5 linked regions of the Homo sapiens genome follow. The protein of the gene in region 1 interacts with the protein of each later gene in a pairwise test. Each region holds a gene or a part of one and is shown in the gene's direction. Other genes may lie near its edges.

The links.
Region 2: the proteins of RGS20 (region 1) and TBC1D16 interact in a two-hybrid assay, tested with the Homo sapiens proteins (one large-scale study listed by BioGRID).
Region 3: the proteins of RGS20 (region 1) and OSTM1 interact in a two-hybrid assay, tested with the Homo sapiens proteins (one study listed by BioGRID).
Region 4: the proteins of RGS20 (region 1) and ABHD17A interact in a two-hybrid assay, tested with the Homo sapiens proteins (one large-scale study listed by BioGRID and IntAct).
Region 5: the proteins of RGS20 (region 1) and KIF1A interact in a two-hybrid assay, tested with the Homo sapiens proteins (one large-scale study listed by BioGRID and IntAct).

Annotation. Positions count from the first base shown.
Region 1 is NC_000008.11:53,955,122-53,960,836, forward strand, and holds the end of RGS20 (regulator of G-protein signaling 20), read left to right. Parts: intron 1-3,148; coding exon 3,149-3,337; 3' UTR 3,338-4,182; downstream 4,183-5,715. UniProt on the Homo sapiens protein: Inhibits signal transduction by increasing the GTPase activity of G protein alpha subunits thereby driving them into their inactive GDP-bound form.
Region 2 is NC_000017.11:79,930,623-79,936,401, reverse strand, and holds the end of TBC1D16 (TBC1 domain family member 16), read left to right. Parts: 3' UTR 1-4,059; downstream 4,060-5,779. UniProt on the Homo sapiens protein: May act as a GTPase-activating protein for Rab family protein(s).
Region 3 is NC_000006.12:108,042,398-108,048,646, reverse strand, and holds part of OSTM1 (osteopetrosis-associated transmembrane protein 1 precursor), read left to right. Parts: intron 1-3,806; coding exon 3,807-3,862; 3' UTR 3,863-6,249. UniProt on the Homo sapiens protein: Required for osteoclast and melanocyte maturation and function.
Region 4 is NC_000019.10:1,878,221-1,884,062, reverse strand, and holds part of ABHD17A (alpha/beta hydrolase domain-containing protein 17A), read left to right. Parts: intron 1-1,496; exon of another isoform or gene 1,497-2,258; 5' UTR 2,259-2,496; coding exon 2,497-2,828; intron 2,829-3,014; coding exon of another isoform or gene 3,015-3,167; intron 3,168-3,947; coding exon 3,948-4,142; intron 4,143-4,204; exon of another isoform or gene 4,205-5,158; coding exon of another isoform or gene 5,159-5,180; exon of another isoform or gene 5,181-5,316; coding exon of another isoform or gene 5,317-5,399; exon of another isoform or gene 5,400-5,842. UniProt on the Homo sapiens protein: Hydrolyzes fatty acids from S-acylated cysteine residues in proteins. Has depalmitoylating activity towards NRAS. Has depalmitoylating activity towards DLG4/PSD95. May have depalmitoylating activity towards MAP6.
Region 5 is NC_000002.12:240,815,584-240,822,399, reverse strand, and holds the start of KIF1A (kinesin-like protein KIF1A), read left to right. Parts: upstream 1-2,180; 5' UTR 2,181-2,278; intron 2,279-3,122; exon of another isoform or gene 3,123-3,294; intron 3,295-6,816.

The DNA of each region.
Region 1 (5,715 bases):
TTTTGCAGTTGATGTTCTGGGTCAAGCTGAACATGACCAAACAGCTGCACCCACATTCACGGTTTTCAGATCACTTTGACTGTGGACTTGCAGAGGGCTCCAAGTGTCCTCTGAAATCTGTGAAAAATTTTGTGCATTTTTCTGGAAAAAGTATCCCCTGGAGTCTCCATTTGACACTGAACACTGTTTACAAATATTATACCCTAAGACGTTCCTTTAAATAAAATTATCTTGTTATTCTGAGAAAAATCTTGTATTTAGGTATCTTGATGTTATAGAGCAGCAGCATCACAGATGTGATACTGATGCTGAAAAGGTTTTCCCCAGGCTGGCTTTTTCATTCAAGAAATTATCAGATGAATGAGATTGGGCAAGTTTCCACCTGTCAGTGTTTCAGTTTCTTCAAATCTAAAATGTAGGAGGCCAGCCCTGGCACAGTGGCCAACTTCTGTAATCGCAGCATTTTGGCAGGCCGAGGCAGGTGGATCACCTGAGGTCAGGAGTTCGAGACCAGCCTGGCCAACATGGTGAAACCCCATCTCTACTAAAAATACAAAAAATTAGCCAGGTGTGGTAGCATTCATCTGTAATCCCAGCTACTCAGGAGACTGAGGCAGGAGAATCACTTCAACCCGGGAGGCGGAGGTTGCAGTGAGTAGAGATTGCGTCATTGCACTCCAGCCTGGGCAACAAGAGCAAAACTCCATTTCAAAAAAATAATAATAATAAAATAAAATTTAGGAGGTCAGATTGTTCTCAAATTGGGTGCCTTGTAGCTCTAATTATAAAACTATTAGTTATTTCCTACTATGTGCCGACAGGAATGTCAAGTTGAAGAAGCAGGGCCTCTCCTGTCATGGAGCTCCTGGAGATGTGGGCGGACAGACCAGGACCCCTGGCCACACTCTCAGCACTCACTGGGGCTCGGGGGTGAGCCATCCACAAAGGGGTGGGCGAGAATGAGAAAAATACTCAAGGAGGCTACAGATGGACCAAGGATAGTGAAAAGGAAATTTCCACAAACACAGCAGGATGGGGACATCCCAGGAGACAGGACCAGGCGAGCCCAGGGGAAGAGCATGAAGTTGTGTGATCACTGCAAGTATACACAGATTGTGCCAGAAAGGGAGGGTGCTTACCAAACTATTAGGGCTGGGGGCAGGCAGCAGGAGGAGACTTAGAGAAGGGGTAGTCGGAGAGCATGGAGAGGTTTGGGCATCATGGCGAAGTGTCTGGATTTTTATCTTGGGAAGCCCTTGGATTTTAGCCTGTTTATATCATCAAATTTTGATTTTTGAAAGACCAGTAGGGCTGCAGAGTGAATTTGGAGAAGACCAGGGGCAGAAGACGTTAGAAAACTAATTCAGGAGTCCAAAGGGACATGGTGAGGGCCTAGCTAGGCCAGCTGAAGACGCTAGAGAGGAAGAGTCGGATTTGAGGCAAACCCCACCGTCTCAAATGACTCCCATATGTCTGGTGTAGGCAGACCAGGTGGTGGGGTCGTTGGCTTACTTAATTTTGCGTCGTTACGTTTTGCTTTCTTAAGTTTGCGTTGTTAAATTGGTAATATTCAGTTGACATGTTTGAATACTGAGTCCAAAAAGTTATTTTCATTTTGAATTAATAAGGAGCAAGATAATTTTTGTCCTTTAATTTATGGCTTCCACATATTTTTATTTTGTCATGATTTTTTTTAAGGCAAGGTTTTTCATCAATCTTTTAAAGTATTATACAACCAAAAACAGGCCGGGCACAGTGGCTCACGCCTGTAATCCCAGCACTATGGGAGGCCGAAGCAGGCAGATCACCTTGTCTAGGAAGAGCCAAACATCAGAGCAATCAACATCTCCTATGGGCTTAGTGAAATCCAAGCACTTTGTCATTAAATCACAAAAAACCTAAGACATTACCATCATCATCATCCCCACTTCAGGGGAAGAGCTCACTAGGACACAGAGTTTACCTTGCCTGAGGCCCCACAGCTATACAGTGACAGGGATGGATTTTGTTTTGTTTTGTTTTTGAGATGGAGTCTCGCTCTGTTGCCCAGGCTGGAGTGCAGTGGCATGGTCTCGGCTCACTGCAACCTCTGCTTCCCAGGTTCAAGCGATTCTCCTGCCTCGGCCTCCCGAGTAGCTGGGATTACAGGCACCTGCCACCATGCCCAGCTAGTATTTTTTATTTTTAGTAGAGATGGGGTTTTGCCATGTTGGCCAGGCTGGTTTCGAACTCCACAGCGCTGGGATTACAGGCGTGAGCCACCATACCCAGGCAGGGCTGGAATTTAAACACAGGCATTGTCTGCCCTCAGGCCCTGTGATTGGAACCTTCCAGGGTTTTGAGTCAACTTCCACTTCACCCCTGTGCCCAACCCTCCGGGCAGGCCAGCACTCATCCCCAGAGCCCTGCCACTGTGGGCCAGCAGGGGAAGCCTGGGCCTCCAGGTGTCAGCCCCCACGTTACAAGGAAATGAGCAAGGGGCAGTCTGTGCTGCCTGTTTTCTTCAAAGCAGCAGTGTGAGCCCTGCCAGCATCACTTAGAACTTGTGGGAAATAACAAGCATCAGGGGCCCCTACACCTACTGAGTCTGGGGTGGGGCCCAGGAACCGCTCTCACAAGCCCTCTGGAGCCTGCTGATGCCACTGACATTTGAGAACTGCGTTGATTATGCTTTTGGTTTCTCTTTGGCAGTTTGGATTTTTTGGATGATCTTGTTTGGTTTGGGATATTTAAAAAACAACAAGGCCGGGCACAGTGGCTCATGCCTGTAATCCCAGCAGCTAGAGAGGCCGAGGCGGGCGGATAACCTGAGGTCAGGAGTTCGAAACCAACCAACACGGAGAAACCCCGTCTCTACTAAAAAAGTTAGCCGGGTGTGGTGGTGGGTGCCTGTAATCCCAGCTACTCGGGAGGCTGAGGTAGGAGAATTGCTTGAACCCAGGAGGCGGAGGTTGCACTGAGCTGAGATCGCGCCACTGCACTCCAGCCTGGGTGACAGAGTAAGACTCTGTCTCAAAACAAAACAAACAACAAAAAAACCAAAAACAAAAAACAAAAACAACAACAAAAATCCCCACAAGCTCTAGGAGTTTGGGATAGAGATACAACTGAAGTCTCTAATACAGCTCCTACTCGTTTCTGTCGACAGGTGAGCTTAGACTCCCGGGTGAGAGAAGTGATCAACAGAAACATGGTGGAGCCATCCCAACACATATTCGATGATGCTCAACTTCAGATTTACACCCTGATGCACAGAGACTCATATCCTCGATTCATGAACTCTGCTGTCTATAAGGACTTGCTTCAGTCCTTATCGGAGAAATCTATTGAAGCATAGGATTTTTCAAATATATTTATTATTAATAAAATAATAAAAGAATTCATGGGCTACAACTAGCACAGGGAATTTAGAGGTTGTAGCATCTTCTGCTGGAGTAATACTCAGGCTATTCTAATAACAGATGATTCCTTCAACAGACTGCTATATATTCACCATGTAAACTGCAGCCACCTTTAGTGATACTTTTGAAAAAAAAAAATAAAGGGATATGGCTGTTGTAGAAAGATAGCGTATTTGCATTTACAATAACAGTAGCATGTTGTCAGTGGCCAAGGCTACACAGAAGGCTCCCTGCTGCCCGGAGCAGGTACATCCACCAGAGCAAAGGGAACCACTTTTATTTTGCATGAGTTTGGTAACTGATTACTCTCCCCTCAAAGAAAAGACATTCAGGTGTTTCTCAACGACATCTTCTGTCCAGCAAGCTCGGTTTGAATACGTCACTTACCAGTGCCATTGCAGGACCCAAATTCACAGTTCATAAAAGATGTGACCACTACATGTAAAAATAGCATTCTACTTGATCTTACAGTATGTATGTATGTATGTATGGAGACATATGTGTGCGTGTGGATGTCTACATGGTTAATGGAAAGCACTGTGCTCTGAAGTGGATCAGTCTCAAGTGTCTGGTAACAGCAGCAGTGCTTAGAAAATTCTTTTGTTGAAAAGAGTTACTGTTATTATCAGAATTTGCCAACCTAAAGAATGAATTTTTAAATTCATAACTTGGTCATGTTCACAACAAAACTGTCAAATAAGCATATTTCCATTTTTATTACTGAAAGAAATATGGGCATTTTCATTCTTTAAAGAAATAAAGCACAAGAATTTTATCTCAATCTTTATTTTTCCATATGTACGTATTTGGGAAATAGAAGATTAAGAAAGTAGGGATACGTGCAGCCTATCTTTTAGCTCCCAGACTAGGATTCTGTCCTTAGATCCCACTATTTTTATCATAGATAAAAAGAATAACTTCTCACAGGTAAAACTACCAGTTGGTAGACCTAGACCATCCTGAAGAAATCCATCTCTACATAGAATAGGAAACACACTCAAAATCTGGGACGCTCTGAGTAGTGGGAAAGACGCTACTTTGCAGGAGGCGGCACCGTGCTCCTGCCCTCGAGGGGAATGGTTCTCCTCTGGGTCCTTCTCCCTCCCTGGCCCCTCCATAGCCTGCCTGTATCTTCATGACTCAACTCAAGCCCCAAACCCAAGCCCCTCTCCTTCATTCTCAGGAAACCATTTTACCTCCTACTCTACTATGCAAATTGTGTCCGTAAGTCCCCTCAACTTCCCGTGCAACCTATAAATATATATAGATCAGCGTCTATTCTCATCTCCCTCAGTCCAGTCCCAGAGAACAATGTGCTCTCCTCCTTTTTGAGGTGTCAATCCCTTACATGTGCTTCCAAGTTTTCCAATCTCATTTCTTACTAAAAAAAAAAAAAAGGATGTGATTGCAAATAAGACATAAACCCTGCCCTCTAGTAGTTTACATTCAGTAAAGGCAGACAGACATGTCAGTGGCAACTCTGATATAGTAAGAACCACAGCAGGGGAAGAACAGCGCTGTGGGAGTCACGAAGGGTTATGGAAAGATTCTGGTGGAGATGGCACCAAAGTCAAAATCCAGAGAACAAGAAGAATGGATGTGTTGGAGGCAGAGAGGGCACTGGATGAGATGGTATTCATAACTGAGTGACCCCAAAGGAATCGACATGCTGAGAACGAGGGAAGACACACATGAAAGGACATGTTGGAATCAGTTGGATGGAGGGATCTGGGTGGGTGAGTCTAGGCTGGCGTACTGATTTTGGGGTTTTTCAGCACATAGGGGAATAAGATTGCCTGGAGAATTATGCATGAAAAGATAGCTGAGGGTAAATCATTGCAAGGATAGACAGAACTGACAGCCCCAAAGGAGATTTAGGATTCACCTTGTCAATAAAAGTAAGAAGAGTTGGGGAATATGGAAATATGGCAGCAAATGCATGGGAGTGTCTCGAGGGGCGGTGGTGAACAGTGGTAAATGAAAGACTCTTACTTAGAGCTTTGTTCCAGCAGTTTCTCCCCACCCTCCTGTATCACTGAGTTCACCTTGGCTTTTTCCCGCACCGTAAGCATGCTCGATTTCCCGGTTAAAAACAAACGCGCGTTCCACTGTAACAGCTGCCTCCTGTTGCCCCCTTTCTCATCAGACCTTTCACAATAGCCCACACTTGCTGTCTCCATTTCCTCATCTCCCCATTCTCACCTTGAGCTGCTCCAGTGCCCTCAACTTCTCCAAGGAGGCCTCTCCCTGCCAAGTCTACAGCGCAGTTTTCCCAGCCTTCTCAGTGGGCTGCTCAGCTCCTGATATCATGGAT
Region 2 (5,779 bases), on another chromosome or scaffold:
CACCTGCCACTCAGGGAAGAGACCGCTGACCTCAGCCATCAGCCGTGTGCATCGTGAGGGGCAGCGAGCTCAGGACGGAGAGCTCTCCCTTGGTTCGGAGTCAGCACACCTGCACTCCCACACGCCCACCCAGCTGTGTGTCCTCCGCCGAGGGCGAGCCTCTCTGTGACTCTTCTGTAAAATGCACCCCATTCTGCCCACTCCTGCCACGAGACCCATCCTCTGCGATCCCGCCAGGCATGTGTGTGTGAATGCATGTGCAAAGCTCTCCATCAGAAGGGTGGTGTGGGCCCTGCAGGTCCTACCCCTCGGCCTTGAAGCTCCCTCGGGCTGCGGACTCTGCCTCCTGGGTCTGAGCATTAGAACCAGGAGAGGGGTGTCCCTGGGCAGAGCCAGGGGTGCAAACAGCCTGCAGCCATCTGGCCTTTTAAGTATAGTGTGTCGCATTTCCGGGTAGGAAGGTAGCATTTCAAGTTCAAAGAGAGGTCAAGTCATGCAACCATCTTTCCTCCAGCACTTTTGGGGTAAGGAGGACAGTTTTTGTTATGGTTTAGGGGAAATTTTCATGAAATTTCCACCATTACCAATAGATTACTGATGTCCATGGCAAGTGATCTGTTCTTGGTATTTTGTTTTGTTTTGTTTTGGTTTTTAAATGTAATCACCCATTGGTCAGGCCCAGGACTGGTCACCATGAGCTCTGCTAGCCACGGCCCCAACGATGCTTCCGGCTCTCATGGATTCCACAGCAAATAAAACTGTACTGACAACAGATGCACGCTGTACAGTGCCTCTGGAAGGTGCGGTGGGACTTGCTGGGTCAAAGCACGGCAGGCTCTGTGCTGGGCAAACAGGGCCCCGTGGCAGCCCAAGGGCAGCCTGCAGACGCCAGTGTGCCCGGCTTCTCCCATGTTCTGAGATGGGGGAGGGGAAGGTGTAAAAGAGAGCTGGATGGGGGCTGTGGGGACTGAGGGTCCTGGGAGGCTGGCCAGGGGCTCAGCAAGCGCCCACTTTGGGAGGCCTTGCCCTCTGGGCTGTGGTTGGACAGCACTAGGCCTGCAGGCTGGGCTGCCAGGAGGAAGAGCAGCTCCGGACCTCAGGCCCCCCCAGCAGGCGGCGATGGAGGGTGATGGGAGAATTGACGAGTGCTCGCGGGGTCTCACTCGGGAAAGGGCCGGTTAACTCTGAGCAACTGGGAGCCTCGCTCCCACCCCAGTGCCTGGAAACACAAACAGTATTTTATTGAGCCTTGGCTGCCGGGGCTCTGGTTTCAGGAAAAGCCTCAGTCCTGCATTTGTGAATTTTTAAGGAGGCAAACAAGGTGAATTTGACCTTCCTAGGAGTGGGAGTTAGGGAAAATTCAGGCTGCCCTACCAAGCCCTTGGAACCGTGCAGCAGGGGTCAGGGGAGGGATGGGCAAAGGCGGTTTGGCCCATGGAGCAGGTCTCCTGGTCCTCCCGGAGCACGGGGGGCGGGGAGCTCCAGCTCTTCATCAAGCGCCCTTTGGGGTTTCCAACTGTTTTCTGTTGTTCTCTGTGTGTCTTTTCCCCTTTTGCCTGGGGGCGGGGGCTGGAGGGGAACATACCTCTTATCTACATCACTCGGGTCTCATGTCTGAAGGGCCTGTCTCACCTGCCACCTACCTGGCCTTGGCCTCGACATCTGAGCGCCTCATCACCTCCTCTCCACATGCCCAGGGGTGCCCCTCCCAAGGCTGGCTGGGCAGGTCCCACGGACTAGGCCCCAGGAGGAGCAGTGGGCTTCCCCCAGGAAAGAGCAGAGCCAGCACTGCCTGCCTAGGGAGGGCACCCACTACCAGGCATGGCTGGTGGCTCCGTTTAAAGAAATCTTTGTCCATGTGGGAGTGGGAGGTGCTTCCCCATCCTGCCTGGAAGCCACGTCCTGGCTCTTACCGTGGACTCTGCAACAGCCGTGGTGGCCACATGAAGATGGAGGAACCTGGTGGCTCAGGGGCCCCTGATGTCACCGCCTCCAAGGCAACGGGACTGGGCAGGGCAGCTCCTCAGGAAGGATGATCCCACCTGCACGGGTCAGCCCTGCAGGGGGACAAGGCCCACCACAACCCCACCTCAGGCCACCAACTGGACCTGTCCTGCCAAGAAGGTCCCTTCCAATTTGTCCGGCAGCTGGTTCCCTGGATACAGCCCAGACGCAGCATCATCCTCATGTTCACCTCTGCTGTGCCCTACTTCCCCCGTAAATGACAACTGTGTAGTCACCCACGCCGGGCAAGAGAACATAGGTGCCACCTGGCGGGCCACACTTTTCAGGGGCCGTGCCTCGGGCAGGCCCGGCTCTCTGTTGTCCCGCAGCCCTCAGGGCTGGCGGTGGCTGCTCAGTGCCTAGGGAGTGCCCTTGCCACACAGCTGGGCAGCGAGCATGACTCAGCGTTTACACTCAACCAGCCGCACAGGCTCCAGAGGGGAAGTTCTCTGGGGTCCTTCTATGAGAGAGCATCCTGTCTGCAGCCCTGTTCTGGCTCCTTCCACATCATTCATGCATTCATCCCACGAGGACTATGGTACCGTGGGCTCGCTCTAGGGAAGCAAGGCAGGAGCGCACTGGGGCTACTTGGATTCCCGGGGCAGACACATATGTACCCTGCACACCCTCAAATGAGCAAAGCCACCCCACTGGCCCCTGGGTGAGGCCATGTGGACCCCCACACCTTTGGGGCCGGCTGGGCAAACCTTGAACCCCCAATTTCTGCGTGGCCTTTGGCTGCCCTCCTTCTCCAAGGCGTGACTCTTACTCCAGAGACTCAGGCGAGCACGTGTCCCTTACCTTATTTTCTCTCAATCAAACTGAAACCCATTGTGATCCCCCATAGTCCAGTGCGGTCTCTGTTATTATTACGGGTGTCTCCCTTCCTCCCCGTGCCCAGGACAGGCCATGAGCCAGAGATACAAGGGGCCCCAGGCAAGATGCAGGGCTCTCTGCTCCTGGCTCTTTATCGTCGTCGGGACACCCTTTGTCCAAACTCAAGGAATCCCGGGAGGTCTGGCTTTGCCGCTTTGGCTGGGACTCAGGTACCTGGGCATACCTGCATCTGTGCCCCCTCTTCGTCCCAGTGAGACGGACCCTCAGTATCCCCCCCAACATAGAACAGGAAGGTCTCAAGCCAGCCCCCTCCTCCAGTTCAATCACCCTCCCTCACATCCACCCAGAGAAGTCCAGACCTGTGGCCACTTCCATGCCCTCTCCAGACCAGGAGACACCTGCTGCTGACCTCGTGGAAAACTTAGATTTTGACATTCTGATGCTTCGGAAGTGGTGGCTCCTCCTCCTTCACCCCTCCGCCACCTGTGGGCCTCCTCTCTGCATCTCAAGAGAACAACCAGATCTTTGGGCTCCTGGGGTGTGTGCCATGCAATTTAGACGAAGTGCTTTGAAAATATGCCATTCAGTCTCTGACTAGGAAAATAAGTCTGACCTGATAGGTCCGATGTCATCAGCTCTTCAACATGAGACAAAAGAGGGGATTTTATGTTTTGAGTCATTAGAATGATATAATAATTTTCTGAATTGACATCTGGATGTTGAAATTAGGATGGTGCAAAAGGGGTCCAGGGCCTCAGGCTGGGCGCAGCAGCCAGCTCCCAATGACGCAGAAGCTGCTTCAAAACCCCCTCAACAAAGAGGGGCACATGCAAGTCACCAAAGTGGGAAGCCTTCACCAAGGCCACACCCAAAGTCTACTGATTGTCTGTCCAAAGTTCGTTGATTCCTGGCCATGAACAAGCACAATAGAAAAAGACACAGGGTCCTAGTGGCTACAAGTCAATGTGAATTGGCACATGGTCTAGCAGTTTTAAAATCTGACAGTAGAGTATGGCAATGGGCAAGGGCCAAGAAGTCCTGAGATGGGAGGTCAGCGCTCTAACTGGGCTCAGTGGAGGTCTGTGACCAGTGTCTGGACACTAGCTACAGGGGACCGGGCAGAGGATTCTGGGCAGAAGGAAAATGTCTAAAAGTACTTTGGGAGGGTAAAGGACAGGGGCCTTATTTAAAATAAAGACTGAAGGATAATAAGTGTCACCCAGGTTTGTGGATTATTGGAGGGGGCACCATCTAGCCATTCTCCACTTTTCCAGTGTGGAGAACCTGGGCAAAGGCGCCAGTGGTCACATGAGGTGCTGCCACGGGGCGGGCTCTGGGAGACCCACTCTAGACCGCTGACCTCTTGGTGCCATCCATTCTGCCTCCTAGAACTCTGGGGTTCTGAGTGCGTGCTCTTGGTGGGGGCCTTCCTCTTTGTTGGGAGAGCCGCTGCTGAAGGGGCCTCTCCCTCTGGCCCAGGATGTAGAGGACACGTGAGGACTACACAAGTGCAGGGGTGGGTGCGGGGGTGGGTGCGGCTTTCCAGCCCTCGCCTTCACTGCACTGGAAGCCTGCTTTCTGGTGTGACCTTTGGGTTCCCTCTCTGCAAGCAAACAACCAGCTCAGACAAAACCAACCATGACCACATCTCAGGTGGGTGGCACCTGGGTCACCCTCCCACCACAGCCCCTGGAGCAGTTTCCAGGTACCTGGCCTCCACTGTCTATTCCACTCACCTCCTGCTGATGTGGACAACTTTAGAAATAAAGTACCAGGGACCCCAGACCACTAGGCAAGAGCCCAGGTGCCCCCTGGGAAATGCCACCACCCACCCCAAGAGCAGGGTGGGGTCTAGCTCCTGAAACAGTCTCCTCTGGGCAAGTGCTGCCTTTCTTCAAAGTCCAGGCGCCCTCTTGGTTGTTGGATAAATCCCCAGGTTCTGCCCCATGATTCATGTAGACGGGAGTTTCCCCCGGTTCTCTGTCTTTCTGCCTGGCTGGGCCACAGATGAGTGCCCCAACCCGGCAGACAAACAGAATTGGACTTTTAGGGTCAGAGGCAGCCAGCCTGAGATGGAGTAGGGTGGGGGCTGGGGAGGGTGTTGGGACCCCGGGAAGGGGATGAGGACATTCCAGGGGAGGTGAACTGTTTGTTTCCCTGGAGGGTTAGACAAAGAACCGAGCTCTTGCAGATTTTGCCGGAAATGCAACTAGAGCTATTGATAGGGTTGAGGATGGGGTCTTTCAGGGTGGGTGAGTCCCTGGAGCTGACTAAAGATTAGTGTTAGTGCAGGTCAGATGAGGAGCTGCCCCCACAGGTGTCGCTCCAGGTGCCCACAGCAGGGACAAACCCCCGCCGACCCCCTGCCCCACGGGAGCTGGTTGCAGCTTCCCCTCCGCCTCCCCCACCCCACCTCTCTCTGTCCCTTCCCCCGTGCAGTGGCCTCAGGGTGGCCACCCACCTGCTCCCAGGGGACGTGAGAGTGTTAGCAAAAGCACCATGCCCTTCCCCTCCACCCTCTGGAGCCTTCAGGGCAGCCCCAAAGCGGTCCCAGTGTCTCTGAAGGGGCTGGGGACCCGGAGTCTGAAATTCAGCTGATGGGTCACCAAACTGGCCTGGCCTCTGAGCCTCTGCACCGATCCTCTCACCCCATCAGGTACCTGAAGCTGATCCAGGACACCAAGGTCTGTTTGTGTGGGGGGGCTGCCAGCTCCCCAGAATCTGGCCCACGATGGTTTTGATTAGAGGAAACACCCCACCAGAAAGCATCCCAGAGATACCTAGAGACCCCCTGTGGCTTCCCCAAAGTGTCCCCTCCCCTCCCCACGACCTGAGAGGCTGCCATGCCCACGGCACGGGCCCCCTGGGGTGCTGTCCTTTCTAGAAAGCAGGTTCCAAAGGTGGGGTTCGGGCCTACTTGGCACAGGGAGGCTTAGAC
Region 3 (6,249 bases), on another chromosome or scaffold:
TAACATGGCAATAGCAGGGAGATACAGACAGCTCTTAGACCCATCGGAGTCATGGTAGAACCACCTAAGTGTGGCAGGCAGGAAGAAACTATAGCTGACATAACAGACAGTTTGTTTGTGAACAAATTGGAATCGTAGTTCCAAGGAGATTACTTGATATAATAGTATATGCTCAATACATATTAATTCCCTTTCTTTCTCCCTATGAAATAGGCCAGAGCAAAAGAAGCACTAACTAGAGATCCCATCCAGCTAAGGAAGAGTGGCTTCTAAGTCACGTGGCTTTCTTGTTTATTATCAGAATGAAAGTACAGGCTTATGCCTTAATAATTTTAGTTTTTAAAAAAGAGAACTGTTTAGGGGAAAAGGTTAATTTTCTTTTCTCTCAAATACTATTTGTAGTCTAGGAATGTCTGATATAAAAATTCTTTTCCCTATAAATTTCGATCACTACTTCATCTAACTTCACTTCTAATATATCTAATTTTTTTAAAAAAAGGTTACCTGTAGATCAGTTTGAACTGAATTTGTAATGTTTTGTCACCTTAAAATGCTAGCTACTAGAGGGGAGAGTCTTTGTCATGGGTGTATTTATTAAAGGTTTTTTGAAGGCTGCCAGCATTCTGTAAATATGCAGTAGCTCAGGTCCTTAAAGCACTTACTTAGAATAATAGCAAAATATTGTGGGCACCTCACCATTGAGAAACTATTTTTCAGAGCTTGGTATACTTTTAAAGTTTAGCATCTTATTTGCCTTGCTAATCTATTTAACTTTATGGAAAGTATTTACTGCTTCTGATCAGGATTTTTTGTTTGCTGTCAAAGTAAAAGTCACTACCAGTGTCACTATTTGCTATGGAAGCCACAAACCTTGTAGTCATTTCTTAATTATTTTCTTTCTTTTATTTTTCCATTCCCACATTCCCCTCTCATCCCCTTTTAATTCATTAGCAAGTATGCTGCCAGTTCTGCTTAGTCCGTCTCTCTCCCTCCACTGGTAAACCCTAGCCCAAACCATCTTCATCTCTTATCTGTACTAACGCAAGAGCCCCTTAACTGGTATCCCTCCTTCCATTTCTTGATCTACTAAAATCCATACGCCACATAGTGGCTAGAATAATTTTTTAAACACAAATTCACCATGTTTCTCTACTAACTTGGAATGCTTAATGTGTTCCCATTGTACCTAGAATAAATCCAAACTTACTTTCCAGGGTCTGCTCTCCAAGCTGTACATGACCTGGCCCATAGCCACCTTTCTAAACTCGTCACATCCATTCTCCTCATTGCTCATGGTGCTGTGGACAGTCTGGTTCCTTTCTGTTCTTCTCCACTACCAAGCTCATTCACACTGCCCCTTTTCCAAGGCCCTTCCCTCTTTACTTACCTGGCTTCTTGCAAGCCAGGTCTTAGCTCTAAAGTTACTTGCTCAAAGAGACCTTTTATGACTCCCCAGTCTAAGAATACACCTCTCCATTTGTTCTTCTGTGCCGTCTTTCTTTAATGGCACTTAATCACTTAAACTAATTTAAATTAAATAATTGGTTATTTAAATCATCTTTTTCATTTATTCTCTACTTTATTTGTTTGTCTTCCCTGCCTGAAGGGAGGAGCTAACTGCATTAGAGGTGTTGAAATTCACCGTTAGATGATCCCTGGGCTAGAATTTTAAAGGATGTGGGGATTTATCAGGTAGGGAATATAAAGGCAAGGAAGATGTAGGTGTATGTACTCATTCGTATTTAACTTGTCCAGTTTATTAAGTCATTTGAATTTTGTCAGAAGCTAGATCACTTCTAGTAGTTTTTAACAAAGTAATTCTCAAAAACCCAAACTATTGATTTGGTTTGCCTCCCAAATCTACTGAAGGCTTAAGAAGTAGATTTTAGTTTAGGCCAATGTTTTTAGTTTAAGTTTTCCCTTTATTTTAAGCTGAAGCAGTACACTCGTCCAGGAAGTCATGTTGTGATTTTCCACTTACAGTTGATAGAAACCAGAGACAGGCCGGGCGCGGTGGCTCACGCCTGTAATCCCAGCACTTTGGGAGGCCGAGGCAGGTGGATCATGAGGTCAGGAGATTGAGACCATCCTGGCTAACACGGTGAAACCCCATCTCTACTAAAAATACAAAAAAAAAATTAGCCGGGCGTGGTGGCAGACGCCTGTAGTCCCAGCTACTCGGGAGGCTGAGGCAGGAAAATCGCTTGAACCCAGGAGGCAGAGGTTGCAGTGAGCTGAGATCGCGCCACTGCACTCCAGCCTGGGCGACAGAGTGAGACTCCGTCTCAAAAAAAAAAAAGAAAAAAAAGAAACCAGAGACATTGGTAGGCCAGGCACGGTGGCTCACGCCTGTAATCCCAGCACTTTGGGAGGCCGGGGCAGACGGATCATGAGGTCAGGAGATCAAGACCGTCCTGGCTAACACGGTGAAATCCTGTCTCTACTAAAAATACCAAAAAAAAAAAAAAAAAAAAAAAATTAGCTGGGCGTGGTGGTGGGCACCTGTAGTCCCAGCTACTTGGGAGGCTGAGGCAGGAGAATGGTGTGAACCCAGGAGGCGGAGCTTGCAGTGAGCCAAGTTCGAGCCATTGCACTCCAGCCTGGGTGACAAAGCCGAGAGTCCGTCTCAAAAAAAATAAATAAAATAAAATAAAAAAAGAAACCAGAAACACTGGTTCTCATCCTTGGCTACACATCAGAATTATCTGCAGAGCTTTAAAAAAGTACAGGTACTAGGGTCCCATTGCAGAGCTTCTAAATCATAACCCCTACCCAAGTTTTGTGAAGCTCTGAAGTAGGGAGACTCTTAGTTACTCAGTATAAAATACTCTCACTATGGGCATGATTGTTTTTCATTTCTAGAACATGAGAAACATTCATGTTTAACTATAAGTACAAAACATATTACCAAGCCAAATAGCCATGATTTGTTTTATTAACCCTAATGACTCAGTCCCATTAGCATCAAATCAGAATTGATGGTAACGTATTTTGTTAGCAGCCATATGTGTTTGTGTGTTTATATAACATAAAACTCACTTTTCTTTGAGGATCATTAAAATTTTTTTTTTACAATACAGAGTTCCATAATAATATACAACTCACTTTTCTTTGAGGGTCATTAAAATGTTTTTGTTTTTTTTTTTTCCCATTACAGAGTTCTTTCACTGATTTTTTTTTCATCTGAAAATAGAAGCAGTTTTCTTTCTTTCTTTCCAATATGTATAGCTTTCCTTTTCTTTCTCTTGCCTTGTTGCGCTGGTGATAAATTAGTGGCATGATGTCAAGCAAGACCAGGTATTTTCGTCTTATTCCAGATCTTAGGGGGAAAAATCATTCAGTCTTTCACAGTTAAGCATAATGATTGCTATAGAATCTTTGTACATGCTCTTTATCAGGTTGGGGAAGTTTTCACTGAATTCTTTTAAGAGAAATTCAGATTTGGATTTCTAACTTAGACTTTTAGATGTATAATTTTGTTATTCTACCTTATAGCACTTTCATTGTCTAAGTACATTTATTTCACGTACATTACATATTTAAGATTGTGATGTTCAAGAAGATATAAATGATGTTGTTTTATTTGTACTGCTTCTAACAAAGTCATGTGCAATTTCTAACAAAGTTATGTGTTTTTAAGGTTGGTAGAAAAAAGTTTTAATTAGGTTTTAATTCTTATAAGGCTGGAACTGTTAGGATTCAAACATAGAATTAATAGATAAATACTATAGATTACATAAAAATAGTAAATAATCATGTTTGATAATTAAATTTAAATTAAAATATAATTCTTTTGATTTATCTAGCCAAACGTCTCAAGTCCAGTACCAGTTTTGCAAATATTCAGGAAAATTCAAACTGAGACCTACAAAATGGAGAATTGACATATCACGTGAATGAATGGTGGAAGACACAACTTGGTTTCAGAAAGAAGATAAACTGTGATTTGACAAGTCAAGCTCTTAAGAAATACAAGGACTTCAGATCCATTTTTAAATAAGAATTTTCGATTTTTCTTTCCTTTTCCACTTCTTTCTAACAGATTTGGATATTTTTAATTTCCAGGCATAGCAATGTTATCTATTTTAATGTGTATTTGTCACAATAACAGAACATGCAAGAACAATCATTATTTTATTTTATAGGCATTTGATTACTATTCTAGACTTCTGGTATCTTCTTACTAACATAAATATCTCAAGTAGAAAAGTTTTTGAAAACTAACATTTAAAAATTAATCAGTTACAGTAAAGACTTTGAAAAAGAAATGTACTTGTTAGGAAGTAGCTTAATTACCCCCCATTGCAGTATTATTGTTATATATATAGTTAATATGTTGTACATCACAATAATATATAATTCAGTCTCTAGTTTCCCTAGAGTCATTTTTGAAACCACTGATTGCAAACCTCCCTGACAATTTTTAAAAGTAGTAAGCCACATTACATTTATCTTTGTAAAAAGATTTATGGTAACTGGTTTCTTACTTGACTTTTATAAATAGTATTTTACATCTTATTTTTGCCTTTATTTCATAAGTAATTTAAAAATCACTGGATTGCTTTATTATATTCAGGGCAATATGGATTATTTTTATACCAAGGATTTGCATCGTGAATTACATTAAGTTATTTGGCAATTTATAATTTATTACTACTTTAAATCAAATGTAGCATTATCACACTGTATTTAAATTGTCATTTTTTAAAGGAATATTTTCTTCTTAAGATATATAGAGGATTTTGGAGAAGAGAGACAGGAGGGGTAAAACCAGCTTAAGGTTCAGCGAGCAGAAAGGGACCTGAGAGGATGCTCACTGTAAGACTGTTGGACAGTGGTGTGTATTGAGGGGATGAATCGGAACGATAGTCTCATGCAGAAAATAGTGAGATTAAGATCATCCTTATTGTTTCTAAATTATTTCAATCAGATGAAAGTGATACGATTGAAATGAAATCACATAGTTCGTGCTCAGAAATTCTATTTTGGTATGTTTGTATTAGCCTTTAGAAAAAACACTCCGTTTCAGAATTGTTCACAGTTTTATTTCTTAGGTTTTTAGAGTTCAGGATTTCATTTATTAATTTCTTCTTGCTTTTTTGGTGGAAATAGGCTTTGTTGTAAACATTAAGAATATAAAATCTCCTCTATATAGAAACAAGAATTTTGTTAAAAAGAGAATTTGAATCCCTTCCTATACTATAAAATGCTCTATAGGGAGACAAAGTGTTTCTTTTTTCTTTTATGTTTACTGTTTATGTGGAGTGAAATATAAGGCTCTTGGATGTATAACATACTCAAAAGCTGTTACACTTTCTCTGATCTGCTGTGATCCACTGAAAATGTGCTGGGGTTTGTTCTGCTGTCACTGTTTATGCTGCTGGAACTTAGCACTGTCTTGATTTGAAGCATATGATTGAGAGCCATTTGAAGCAATCTTCATTAATGCAGATAAAACAAGTTTACATGTGCAGAGTTAGAAAATGACATGTTCAATTCTGTAAGTGGTGACTTTTTGAGCACCTTTCAGTATTATGTATTTGTAAAAACCATTGTTTTTGGATATAAAGCTAATAAGCACTTTAAAAAGGAAAAGGCAGCCTTTACTATTTTTTCTGGTTGAGTCATTGCTCTTTAGACCTAGCATCAGCAATAGATTTCAAAGATAAGTATTAAGCGCTACCCTAAAGTGTGTAAGTTTTTCATTTTGTCATATTGAAAAATGATTTGCATAGTACTGAATGTTGACACACAGCTTATATGTATTTACAAGAATATCTTTAAGTGTTTTTTTGACACATTAAAATAAAGGAAATAAGGAAATTGTAAGCTTTATTTGGATTTTTAAATACATTTTTAAAATTTCAGATGTAATTTAACATCACATTTGTTTTTCAGGTATTGAGTTTAGATGCCTACTTTTATGAGTACCATCAGCTGGACACAGTGTCTCATACCTGTATTTGCAGCACTTTGGGAGGCTGAAGCAGATCGCTGGAGCTTATGAGTTCGAGACCAGCCTGGACAACATAGTGAAACACTGTCTCTGCAAAAAATACAAAAATTAGCTGGGTATGGTGGTAAGTGCCTGTAGTCCTAGCTACTTGGGAGGCTGAGATGGGAGGATGTCTTGAGCCCGGGAGGTGGAGGTTGCAATGAGCCAAGATTGTACCACTGCATTCCAACCTGGGCGACAGAGCCAGACCTTGTCTCAAAAAAAAAAAAAAAAAAAGAAAAAAGAAAGTACTG
Region 4 (5,842 bases), on another chromosome or scaffold:
CAAAGGGTGGTTGGGTTGGGCAAGGCTGTCTAGTGAGGTTGGGGAAGGGAGTTCCTGGCAGAGGAGCAGAGGCAGGAAGGGGCAATTTGGCTTGTCTTGAGGGAGCCAGGAGTGGCAGGGTGTGAGATGAGTGAGTCTGGAGAGGTCGGCCTGAGCCGGAATGCGGACCTGGCAGGCTGTGGGGAGGGCTTTGATCTCTATCCAGGGAATAATGGGAGGCCCCCAGGACACCCCAAGAGGGAAGCGGCTCCATTGCATTTGTGTCGTGAAAGATTGTTTGGCTGCTGGGGGAGAATGTCCTGGAGCAGGTGATCAGCAAGGAGGGAGGCTGTTGCTGTGGCTCTGGTGAAAGGTGATGGAGGCAGGGACCGGGCGGTGGCTGATGGGAGACAGGCAGAGCCACCGGGCTGGTGATGGACCGGCTCAGATCCAGTGGGTGGAAGGAGGTGTCAAGGATAACATCTTTGTTTCTGGCCTGGATAGTGGGGCCCTGGCCACCTCGGTGTGCCCCTTCGTCTCCGGGGTCTCCAGGGGCCTGCTGCTGTCCACTGGGCTCTCAGGACCCAGCTGCATGATGCCACCTAAACTGCAGGGCCCTCCAAGTCCCCAGCACCAGCGGGGCAGCACCGGTAGGGCCTGGACCTCTTTGAGAATATGTTGAAAAGCTGACATCAACCTCGACGCTGTGGATGTTGGGCCTGATCATTCTTTGGGGTGGGTCTGTCCTGGGCACTGCAGGGTGCTAAGCAGCCTCCACCCAGTCCCCAGTGGTGACACCCAAAACTGTGTCCAGACATTGACAGGTGTCTCCAGGAGGGAGACTCGCCTCCATCTGAGAAGCAGAACCAGCCTGACAGTCCACCTCCCGGCTGAAAAGTGCTTGCATGTGCGATTTGCCTTCCGCCTGGGAGTCTGGGGGCACTGGGATGCCATCCTTGCCCCACCCTGGCTTTCAGAGCTCTCTCCTCTCCTCCTCGTGTGCCCATGAGTCCGGCTCACAGGAACGTGGGTCTCACATCAGGTCCTGAGGGAGCAGGTGTGTTTCTGGGCCTGAGGCTGCTCCTTGGTAGTGAGGGTGTCCCCACGAGCCGTGTCTGTGGCGCCTGCAGCTGCCTGCATGTCCATCTGTGTCCACATCTGCCTTTGAGCCTCATCTTCCTGGCCCCACGGTTTTCTCATGCTGTGACCCAAAAGCCAAGCATTCCAGGGTGTTCTGCTGAAATTGAGTTGTGAGCGTGTCTCTCTCCTCGCTCCAGTCTGAAGGAGAAGCGTGGTCGGTAGATAGACGTCTCAGACCTTCGTGTTTTCTTCACGTCTGTCTGTTGGCAGGTCCTTACACTATTGTGGTTGCTTTAGCAACTTAGCTGTTGTCGACTTAATGTGTTTCATGACGTTCTGCAGCAAGGAAGAAGGTCCGAGTTTCCACTCTCAATCAGGCACCTTCGTTCCCCTCCCCCCTCACTTGACTTCCTGTGGGGTGTGTGGTGTCTGCACTTATAGATGAGAATGCTGAGGCCTCAGGAGGGCAAGGGACTCGCCCACGGTCACGGAACCCTAAGTCAGGGGTGGAGAAGGACCCCCTGACGCCAGCCCACCTCCCCTGCCCCTCAGCAGGCCTGGCTCCAGCACAGAGAAGAGCCATTGTTGCTGCTCTGGGGGCCCTAGGAGCCTGGGATGTATCCTGCCTTTGTTTCTAGAGCCTTTGTTTGTTGTATTTCCTCTGTCTCCAGACATCGCAGGCCGGTGGGACCCGGCGCCTGTGCACGCTCACGTAGCGGGGCCTGTTCGGGTCCCTCGTGGGTCCCTTCAGTTCGAGCTCTGTCCTTGCCTCAGCGGCCCGTCACCCATAGGGTGGCAGAGATGGGCCGGGGGAGGGAGTGGGCAGCAGTGCGGACCGAGTCCTGGCGCATGGGGTTTCCCTGGTGCTGGAGCCGGGCGTTTCGGGGGTGTGGGCGGGGCTGGGGTCATATCCCCTGCATGCCCCGCATGCCATGGCTGTACTCACATGGCAAGAGGTGGTGATCGCCAGCTCAGGGAAGGTGGGGGTTCCTTCATCCTGTGGAGAGGGGGCTGAATTGGGGTCCCCTGAGCTGTAGGGTGCAGTGCCTGACAGGCCGTGGGGAGGGCCGAGGGGATGGGGACTGACAGGCCCCGGGCCCATGCCGCCCCCTGGCACGGGTGGATGCCCCGCCTCCCGGGGGTGCCCAGCTGGACTGTGGCACCCCCAAAGGACCCCACATGTCACTGTTCCCCCGCAGGGCTTCCCACGGCACGACATGGAGACCTGTGGTTGCGAGGCTCCCTGGGGCTCGGCTTGGACCGCGATGGGGCTGGGCCCTGGCCTCCTAACGGGGCTGCTGTCTGGGGCGGTAGCTGGGGGGGCGCTCTCCCCCCTGCCCGCGACTCGGAGCACCCCCACCCCTCCCCTGCCGGGCCAGGCCGGGCGGCGTTGTTGGCGGGGGCCCCGGTGGAGGCCCGGCCTGGGCGGCGCCCGCCATGAATGGGCTGTCGCTGAGTGAGCTCTGCTGCCTCTTCTGCTGCCCGCCCTGCCCCGGCCGCATCGCTGCCAAGCTCGCCTTCCTGCCGCCGGAGGCCACCTACTCCCTGGTGCCTGAGCCCGAGCCGGGGCCTGGTGGGGCCGGGGCCGCCCCCTTGGGGACCCTGAGAGCCTCCTCGGGCGCACCCGGGCGCTGGAAGCTGCACCTGACGGAGCGTGCCGACTTCCAGTACAGCCAGCGCGAGCTGGACACCATCGAGGTCTTCCCCACCAAGAGCGCCCGCGGCAACCGCGTCTCCTGCATGTATGTTCGCTGCGTGCCTGGTGCCAGGTGAGCAGCTGTGGCCGCGCCTGGGCTGGGTCACCCTGTTCTTGGGGCTCCCGTTTCTGCCTGCGGTGCTTGGTGTGGTTGGTGGTGCCCCCGAGGGCCCGAGCCTGCCGTGAAGGGCCATCCAGCCAGCAAGGGTGGTATCCCCCGTCAGGCCGGCCTCGTCCCTCTGGCAATTTTCTCTCGCAGACAAGGACACCAGGCTCAGGGAGGCCATCCCCAGCTGGCATGGGTGGGCAGGCTGGGCGACTCCAACAACCCAGCGCCTGGTGGTTGCCTGCTGGGCAAGAGCTGGGGCACAGGGGCTGCCCTGGCCTGCGGGTACATCCACCTTCTCGCCAGGTGGGGTTCTGACCAGATCTGAGTCCAGAGGGCGAGCCTTTACCTTCTGGCTGGGCTAGGTGGGGGCCTGGGGGAACTGGAGGAAGCAGTCCATGGCAGGGCCAGCCTGGCCACCTGCTCCTGGCACCACCTGGGGCAGCTCCCGTGCTGGGAAGCAGACAGGCCTTGCAGCACAGCCTTGGGGCTTGGGCAGGGTGGTGGGCCAGGAGGGGCTGCATGAGTGTGAGCAGAGATTGGCCGCATTTGCTTGTTGGGGGCAGGGGTGGGGTCCAGTTGTGCCCCAACAGTGAGGGCACCATTCTGTGAGGTGAGGGGAGATAGCCCTGCCAGCAGCAGCATGGGCTCCCCTGGGAAGGTCCTGAAAGGTGGGCCTGTGCGCTCCATCCCCGGGGGTCCAGGTTCTTCCAGGAGGAAGGGCAGTGAAGCCTGCAGTATCTGAGCACACACTGCGAGTCTGCCCTGAGAGAGGATGCGACCGATGGTCCCAGTGTCCCGCTTCACAGATGGGAATCCTGAGGCTCCCTGGCTGGCCTCTGCAGCCCAGGCTGCCTGTCCCCCTGCCAGCTGTCCTGTCCTCTCCCCATGGGGAACCCTCGGAGATGGAGCTGTGCTGTCGTAGCCTCCCCTCTCCATTCACTGGCTTCTGGCCCCCTTGGGAGGGGAGTAAATGAGGCACTGGGCATGGCTGGCCACCGGGGTGGGCTGTCACTACGCATCCTCCTGCCCTGCAGCTGGGCGCTGGGAGCGAGGATGTGAACGGCCCTTCTCGGCCTGTCCCAGGTACACGGTCCTCTTCTCGCACGGCAATGCCGTGGACCTGGGCCAGATGAGCAGCTTCTACATTGGCCTGGGCTCCCGCCTCCACTGCAACATCTTCTCCTACGACTACTCCGGCTACGGTGCCAGCTCGGGCAGGCCTTCCGAGAGGAACCTCTATGCCGACATCGACGCCGCCTGGCAGGCCCTGCGCACCAGGTGAGGGCGACCCTGGGGGCAGCTCAGCCTGGGCACACCCAAGAGGGGACCAGGCGGGGGGCCGGGGGGCGGGCTTCCCTGGGAGGAAGGTGGGCGGCCCTGCAGGAGGGGAGCCACAGTGGATGCACAGGGCCAGAGAGCCGGACAGGCGAGCTTGGGTGTGCAGGTGCCGCCTCCACATGGCTGAGGTGTGGCCAGGCGGTCCTCCCACACCCTGGCCTGTGGAGCCAGGTTCCCTGGGAACCCCTGGCCTGAGGATGGGAAGGGGCTGAGCTTGTCACAGGGGTGTGGATGCCACCCGGCGGGAGGGAGTGGGTGGTGGTCTGGGGGTCTGTGCACGTGTGGCTGGGAGCCCATCGGCCGAGGCAGCACTTGGGGCCAAGTGAGGCGAGGCTGCTGCATCCAGGTCCGGAGGACTGGCCCATGAGGCCCTGTGGCTGCGGAGCTTGGCCATCCTGGGGCAGGGCCTACAGGGTAAGGTGCAGACCCGCAGCACACATCCGAGGTCTGGGCCAGCCTCGATTCCAGATCCAGCCCTCCTAGTCATCCACGTCCCCAGCCCTGCGCTTGCCTGGGCCCTTCACCGGTGTTTGAGCACCGCCCGGGCCAGTGCTGCTTTGGACGAGGAGACCCGGGTGGGCCTCTGGTGGCTTTTCCTGCTCACCATCCACTGGGCCTGTCTCGTCCTGGCCCTGCCCAGCCCACTGGTCTGACCTGCTCCCACAGGGACCAGGCACAGCTCTGAGAAGTCAGAGGCCCTAGGGAGGTGGGGTCGTCGTTGCCTTGGTGATATGCAGGCAGTCCCTGCAGTGGGCCTGGGAGCTGGTCCCCTGGCACCACCCTGGCTCTGGGGGCCTCCCAGCAGTGTGGGACGCTGACACCAATCACCACTTCATGCGACTTCCTCGGCCCCTCCTGTCTCTACTGCCTGGGCCACTGGCAGAGTCACACCTGCCATGGCCAGCTCTGAGCTCTGTCTGCTCGGCCATCTGTCCTGCTGCCACTTTGTCCTGCAGGAACCTAGGCCCAGAGCTGTGAGGGGGAGGCCAGAGCGTGCCCAGGGCCTCCACCGGGGATGTGTCCTGTTCGTTTGAGTGGTGACATCCAGGTGGCAGCTCGGGGCTCCTGCCTGTAGCAGGTGGCAGGGCTGGGCTGGCTCAGCACACTACTGACCATGGCTGCCAGGGAGCAGGCCAGGGAGGCCGAGGCAGAGCTGGAGCCACAGGCACCAGCCAGGCAGCATCCTTTGGGGCATGGGTGAGTGGCGAGCTGTGGAGTGCTGCCAGGAGGCTGGGATTCCAGGCCAGGGACGGGGACAGCCCTGCTGGTGGAGATGCCAGGCAGAGGGGACGCACACCTGCCCATGCTCCTGCCTTGCAAGAGGGCGTCTGCCTGGGATCAGAGCCTAGAGCGTGTGGGAGGAGAGTTGTGGGGTCCCGGCATGGGCAGGGTGGCAGGTGGGTCCCGTGTGCTTGGGACTGGGCACGAGGAGGCCTTGTAACTGGTGCTGGATCAGCTGGGTCAGGGGCCGCACACCAATGACCTGGGGGTGAGGGTGCCCCTGGGTGGGAGCTGGTGGTGCTGAGGTGGCCGAGGACTTGTCCACTCCCAAGGGAAGGTGCTGGTGGGAGGGGGTGCCACCTCCGCAGCCACCACCCTCGATGCTGACCTGGGTTGCACTGGCATCTCATTGGGCGTGG
Region 5 (6,816 bases), on another chromosome or scaffold:
TTAAAGAAACACTATTGAAAAGTAAATAACATTATTAAATAACCCTGGGTTTAAAAGGAGATCATCAGGAACAGTAGAAAATATTAGATATGAATGATAATGAAAACATTTTATGTCCAAATTTGTGAGACTCAGCCAAGACAGTTCTGTAGAAGGAATTTTGTAGCTTTTAATACAGTAGATCTATTGGAAAATCAGAAGGCTTAAAAAGGAGCTAAGCATTTGGTTCAAGACAGAGGAACAGATCAAATCCAAAGAACCACAAAGGAAGGAAATAATACAGAAAGACAGAAGCAAATGAAATAACGGGAAAGACGTTTAACAGAACTAAAAGTTGGAGCTCTGAAAATATTTAAAAATATTAAAAGAGAAAAATGCAAAAAACAAAATACAGGCCAAATGCATGCCAGTAATCCCAGCACTTTGGGATGCCGAGGTGGGTGGATGGCTTGACCTCAGGAGTTTGAGACCAGCCTGTGCAACAGGGCAAAATCCTGTCTCTACAAAAAATGCTAAAATTAGCTGGGCGTGGTGGCACACACTTGTAGTTCCAGCTACTAGGGAGGCTGAGGTGGGAGGATTGCTTGAGCTGGGGAGGCTGAGGCTGCAGTGAGCCAAGATGGCACCACTGTACTCCAACCTGGGAGACAGAGCAAGACCCTGTCAAAACAAACAAACAAAACCATAAAAAGCCAGAATATAAAGAAAAAAAGATATGCTAGTCATTTAAATATTAACGTGAAATAGATTAATTCCTAGAAAAATGTCTATTGCCTCGAGAAATAGAGAACTTGCCAGATTAAAAAGCATGAGGAAAACGGAGGTGATAAAGACCCCAGCCCCAGAAGCCCAGATGGTTTTATTGTTTCTGCCAGGGTTAGGAAGAACAATTGATTTCTCTTTCATGCCGGCGGTTCCAGGAAATAGTGAAGGAGGAGGAGCTGTCTAGCTGGTTTCGGCGGGGCTGGGGCTGGGAGTGGGGGGCCCGTGTCTTGCAGAAGTGGATGTGAATCTCCCCCAGCCACCTGCAAGGCGCTCGCACGCAGCTGTCGGGACTGAGGTGAAGCCGGCTCTCCCAGGAGTGTGGATGAAATGGTTAACGGCGAGGCCGCTAGGGCAGCGCAGGCCCCTGCTGGGCGCCAGGGAGGCTTAGCCAGGCGACGCCAGGATGCCCATGGCAGGGGCTCGATGGCAGGGGCTGGGCTGGAGGGGACCCAGCCCCGGGGTTCAGGGTGGCCCGAAATCCGTGCACCCCCGCACCGCAGTGCGGGGAGGTTCCCATGGGCGAGCTGCCCAGAGGCTTTGTCGAAGTTGCCCAGCCCTGGGACGGTGGAGGGAGGACGGTGGCGCGCACAGAGATACCAGTCAGCCCCTGGAACTAGGAAGGCGGCTGGGGGCGGGTGACGCAGGCTGGGGTTTGCCGGGGTGGCCCCCGAGCGGCGTGTGACTTGGGGGTCCAAGGAAGTTAAACTGGACAGGCTGGGGTGAGGACAATGGGGGCCTGGAGAGGTGGGGCGAGAGGAGGGCGGGGGGTCCCCACGAGCCGCGGTAGAGGCGAGGCGGCGGGTCCGCGGGCGGGTTGCATCATCCGGCGGGGAGGGCCTGGGTCACTGCTGCTCTTCCCCCGGCGCCCCGGCCCCGACACAAGATGCGATTTCACCGCGCACCTGTTACACCCGGAGCCAGCATCCCTGGCGCAAGGAGCCCTCCCTCCCCAGCCCCGCCCGCCCCCCACGATGCGTCTGTCGCTGGCTCAGAGCGGGGGCAGGTGGACGTTTTACGATTTCACTCGAAAGGGGCCAGGGTGGGGGACGGCCCGGCGAGGGGTCCGCGGGCAAGTTCAGGTGCACGCGGGGCTTCGGGACGGGGCGCCGCCGGGTCCCTCCCCCGCGAGGTCTCAGGGGCACGCCGGGGGAGGGGACGCTGCGTCCGAGCCGGGTGTCGGTCCCCCACCCTCCGCGGGGCCCGCCGCGGTGTCAGCGGTGACGTCACAGCCCGGCCCCGGCCCCCTCCGTCCCCAGCCCCATCCCCGCGGCGGCCGCGTCGCCCGTCCCTCTCCCCGCGCGACAAACCAGCTGGCGACTGGAGCTCGGACGCCGCGCGCAGCCAACCAGCGCCTCGGGAGGGGCGCGGGGCGGTCCGGGCCGGGGGCGCGCAGCCCGTCACGCGGCGGCGCCGTCACAGCGCAGAGCAGCCGGCGAGCGGCAGCAGCTCCGGGCTCGAGAGCCCGCGCCCATGCCAGTGCCCATGCGGGGCCGCCGCCAGTGACGCCGGAGAGGTAAGGCCGCCGCCCGCCCGGCCTCCCGCGCCCGCGCCCCTCGCCCCGCACCTGCGCCCGGCAGCCCGCGCCCGCAGCCCGCACCTGCACCCACTGCGCCCAGGGCGGGGAGCTCCGGCCCGGCGCCCTTGTTGCCGCCCAAAGCGCAGGCACTGCGAGGCCCCTTCACTTCCAGACCTTCCTCCATCTCCGCAGAGAACAATGGGGGAAATTCAGGGGTGTCCGCCCTTCAGGTGCCGCTGGAAAAGGTCCCTTTGCCGCGATCTCGGCTGCAGCGGGACCCTCGGCTTAGGCGGGCGGGGGTCGCCCTCGGGAGGGCTCGCCCGGCCGGCGGGATCGGGATACCCCCGCCCTTCCCCGGCTATTCCGCTTCCCTGGAGAGGAGCCACCGGCGGGGCTGCGGGAGGGGCTGCGCCCAGACGGCGGGGGAGGGGAGGGATGGTGAGCGGGGCTGAGGACGCTGACGCCGCACCTGGGAGGGTGCGCGGCTGCAGCGCCTCGGCCCGAGGGGAGAGCGCGCAGGGCGGCCGGGCGCGGGCAGCTGCTCCGGTTCCCGGGGTGGGGGAGGGCGGATGCTGGAGCCGGGAGCAAAACAGGCGGGCGGGGCGGGGGCTGCGGCGTTGGGGCCTGGCCACCCGCTTCGTTGCACGGCCGGCCTGCCCATCACCCCCTCCCACGCCAGAGACCCCAGCTCCCTTCCAGAAAGACCCAGCACCTGGGAGGGGCCGCCGGCGAGCACTGCCTGCGTCTCAGCAGCCAGCGCCCCTGTAACAGGTGTGGCCCGGCGGCGAGGGAGGGGCTGCGGGGCCGCAGGGTCTAGGCTGGCGGCGCGCCCCCGGCGCCCGGGCTCGGATGACACGAAGGAACAGTGGCCGCGAAGACCTTCGCACTCCCGCTTTAAGCCGCTCCTCACGCTGACTTCCCCCAAACCAGCCGCGCTGCCCTCTCGCTGGGAAGGGCCGGGGCAGCATCCCCGCCGGGAGGGAGGGTCCGCAGGAGCGGGGCGCTGGGCGCCGGTAGGTGGGGTTGGGGGGGCCCTGCCGGCCGCAGGGGCGGGAGGGGGAGGGGAAGGAGGGAATGCCAAGTCATGGGGCCTGCTGGGCGCGAGCGCGACGTCGCCCGGCGCGGACCCGATGCGCGCCCACGTCCCCGGGAATAGGGACTTTCCCCCAGAGACTGGAGGACCCCTTCCCCAAGCGTCAGCCCTTTCCAAGGGGTGCCTGCATTGCTGGAATTAAAGGCCTGCCAGGGCAAGCGGATTGGATCTTGCGGCTGCGGAGAGGAGGCGGTGCGGAGAGGCCCCTGCCTCGCAGGGCTGGCACTGGCCTCACCCTGGGGACGCACAGCGCGACACCGTGCTCGGCTCTGCGGGACACCAGGTCGCACTCAGGCTGGCGGGGCCTTTGCCAGGGAAGCCATGCCAGCACCCTCGTGGTGTGAGAAGGCAGCAGAGGGTTTGAAGGGAAGCTCTGGGGTCCACGTGGGGGTTGGGGCTGCACCTGCGGCGGCCATTTTGCAGGTGTGGTTGGCCACCAGCCTTAGCCAGGCTGTGGAGTGGGGCAGTCAGGAGTGGGGCAGTCAGGAGTGGAGCAGATGTGGAGCTTGCGGTGCAGGGTGTGGGATGGGCCAGGGCCAGGGCTCAGGTCTGCCCTTGCACTGAACACACACCGTCTATTTAGAGGGGTTCCTTGTTTGGTTGATGGGGTGGTTGGAGTCAAGACCCAGGAACCCTCTGGACCGGAGGGATGAGGAGGGATGCGGTAAGGCCGCTGGCTGAGGGGCCCAGCGTGGGATCGGAGGAGGGCAGCCTTTACCCGGGGTGAAGTCTCGGGAGGGTGCTGGGTCCAAGGCAGGGCCCGGATGAACAGCTTCACTCCGGCTGCAGATGGATCTGAGGCCCTGCAGGTGTCCTCCCCGGGCAGGTCCGCAGGGTGGACAGAGGCTGGAATCAGTTGTCAAGGCAGGGGTCCCGGGCCGGGCCCAGGGAGGTCCCTGTGGTGAGGGCCTGCAAGATGTCTGCTGTGTGCCAGCCCTGCTCCCAGCCGGGTGCTGCCCCCCTGGGTGCCTCCTTTCCCCCTTCCCCACTGGAATGTCCCACAGACTGCCCCATCTGGGGCTCCAGCCGGCCAGCCACAAACAGGTGGAGCCTGGAGTTCTGCCCAAAGCCCAGGGATGATGCTTGGCTGGATCAGGATTAAAACTGGGGTCACTGCCCGGCCGCCCAGCCTGTGCCCCGCAGTCCTCACTGATGTCATGACTGCTGACCTTGGGCCCACCATGCCCTTTGGGAGTAGGGTAGGGCAGTCCTCCTGTGGGATTTGTGAAGGGTGGAGGGGGAGATGTGAGCTGGAGGAGGAGGCCCTGGAGGAGACTGAGGGCATCTCTTCAGGCCACTCAGCCGGGCCGGCCAAAGCAGGTGAACTGGGTGTGGTGGGGACGGGAAGGGAGACGTTCCCACAGAGCCCTGGTCCTACCAGATTGGGGTCTATGGAGGGGCTACCAGCATTAGGTCATTGGGATTTACTGAGCCCTGCACATGCCTAGCTGGCCAATCCCGTCAGGCCTGAGACCATCCGTGCACATCTATCAGTGAGCTGGGAGGGGCCTGAGCCGCTACCACGGGTGGAGAGTGGTGGGCCTGGGTCTCTGGGTGGCTGTGATTGGTAGGATGAGCACGTGGTTGTCTGCCTGCAGAGTCTGGGGACCTCTCTAGGTCATTGCCACATTCAGTGTTCTTAGGCCCAAAGGATGTGGCTCACCACCCACAATATGGGTGGCCAAAGGGACTCAAGGTGTCACCTCCCACTGCCCATCACCCACTCCATGCCCAGGAGCGTCTCTGAGAACCATGGGGGGCTGGGCCACACCCTGCCCCGAACCTGTCCATGGGTGGCCAGGGTACCCAGGGACACAGCCAGGCAGCGTTGGGCCTGCGTCCTTGCCGGCTTCTGCCCCTTAGGTGGTGGCCTCCGGCCATAGGCCCATCCCTGCTACAGGAGGGTTTGGGATCCCAGAGCTTTGCATCCCAGTCCTTTGGCATGGCACCTGGGCAGAGGCAGGGGCACAGTGGCCCCACCTGACGAAGCCAGCTTGCTCTTTAGCTCCTGAGCCCCACTGGGATCCCCACCCTCAGCCTGGCTGGCCTCTCGCCACCCCAGTGCCCCCACCCCCAGGGCCTCAAGAACCCAGGGAACAGCTGGCTGGGCTTGGCCCACGTGCTGCAGTTGGGGGTGCTGTGGGGCAGAGGGCACAGTCAAGGTCAGCAGCAGGTGGAGACTGAGCCTCCTGACCTCTCCTGCTCCTTGCCAGCCCATCCTGCCAGCTTTGGCCTCCTGCAGGCCTAGTGCATTGTAGAGATTGATCCGGATGTGTGGATATGGGACTTGGATGTGGGACTCAGAGGCTGGGGTTGCCGGAATGAGTAGGAGGGGCTGCTGCCTCTCTAAAGCCTCCTCACCCTGGATTTAATCTCCTAATCCCAGGCCTTGTGGTCTGGGCAGGCCCAGCCCTGGCTGCCACAGAGCCTGGGGATTCAGATGACCTTTGGGGGTCCCTCCTGCTTGCCATCCCTGCCAGATTTCAGGACGCCTTGGGGTATAGGGAGGGCAGGCCAGTGCCTGGCTCTCCAGGCATCCTCGTGCTTATTCCTCACCCCTCCCCACAGTGCCCTGGAGGGGTCCAGAGCAGTCACCCGGCCACACACACTCATAGTCACATGCATCCACTCGAACACACACAGATCCACATGCATATACACATACACACACATTGCACACACACTGACACACACATGCACGCACACCCACCCATGCATACATTCACACACACAGACACTCATACACACACATGCATGCTCATGCACACTCACATACCCACACATACATTCACATACAAACACACATACACACATGCTTATGCACGCATGCATACACACATGCATGCATGCAGATAGACACACACACACACACACACTCTGCATCCCTTGTCCCTGTCTTTGTTCTTGCCTGGGTTTCTTCTCAATACTTTCTACTCAACCTCCACATTAGGTTTTAGGTCCCCCTCAAATGCTGCCTCTGCCATGATGCCTGCTGTCACCCCTACCCCTCAGATTGGCACCCCCTCCACAACCATAGGTTTCCAGGGGTGGGGAAGAAGACAGAGAACACTGGTCATAGCCTGCACTGTGCACCTCATGTGCTTCCCTTTATCCCATGCCACTCCACACCTGAACAATGAGAACAGCACCGCTTGGCTCGGACCCCACTGAGCCAGGTGGTGGTGTTCCCATTTTCCAGGTATGGAGACTGAGGCTCCTGAGAAGCCCATGTGGCTTGTAAAGTGAGGACCTGGGACTCCGAGGATGGTAGCTCCTTTAGTGCTTTCTGCTCATCCCTCCACTTTCTCCTCCACCCCCATTACCCCCCACTTCTCCCACCCCCACGGGGGCCAGCACGGTGCCTCACACAGAGTGAAGACTCAGTCAGTGCTCTTCCATGGCTGAGCCGGTTGTTCTAGCCCAGGTACCGCATTTTCTGGTA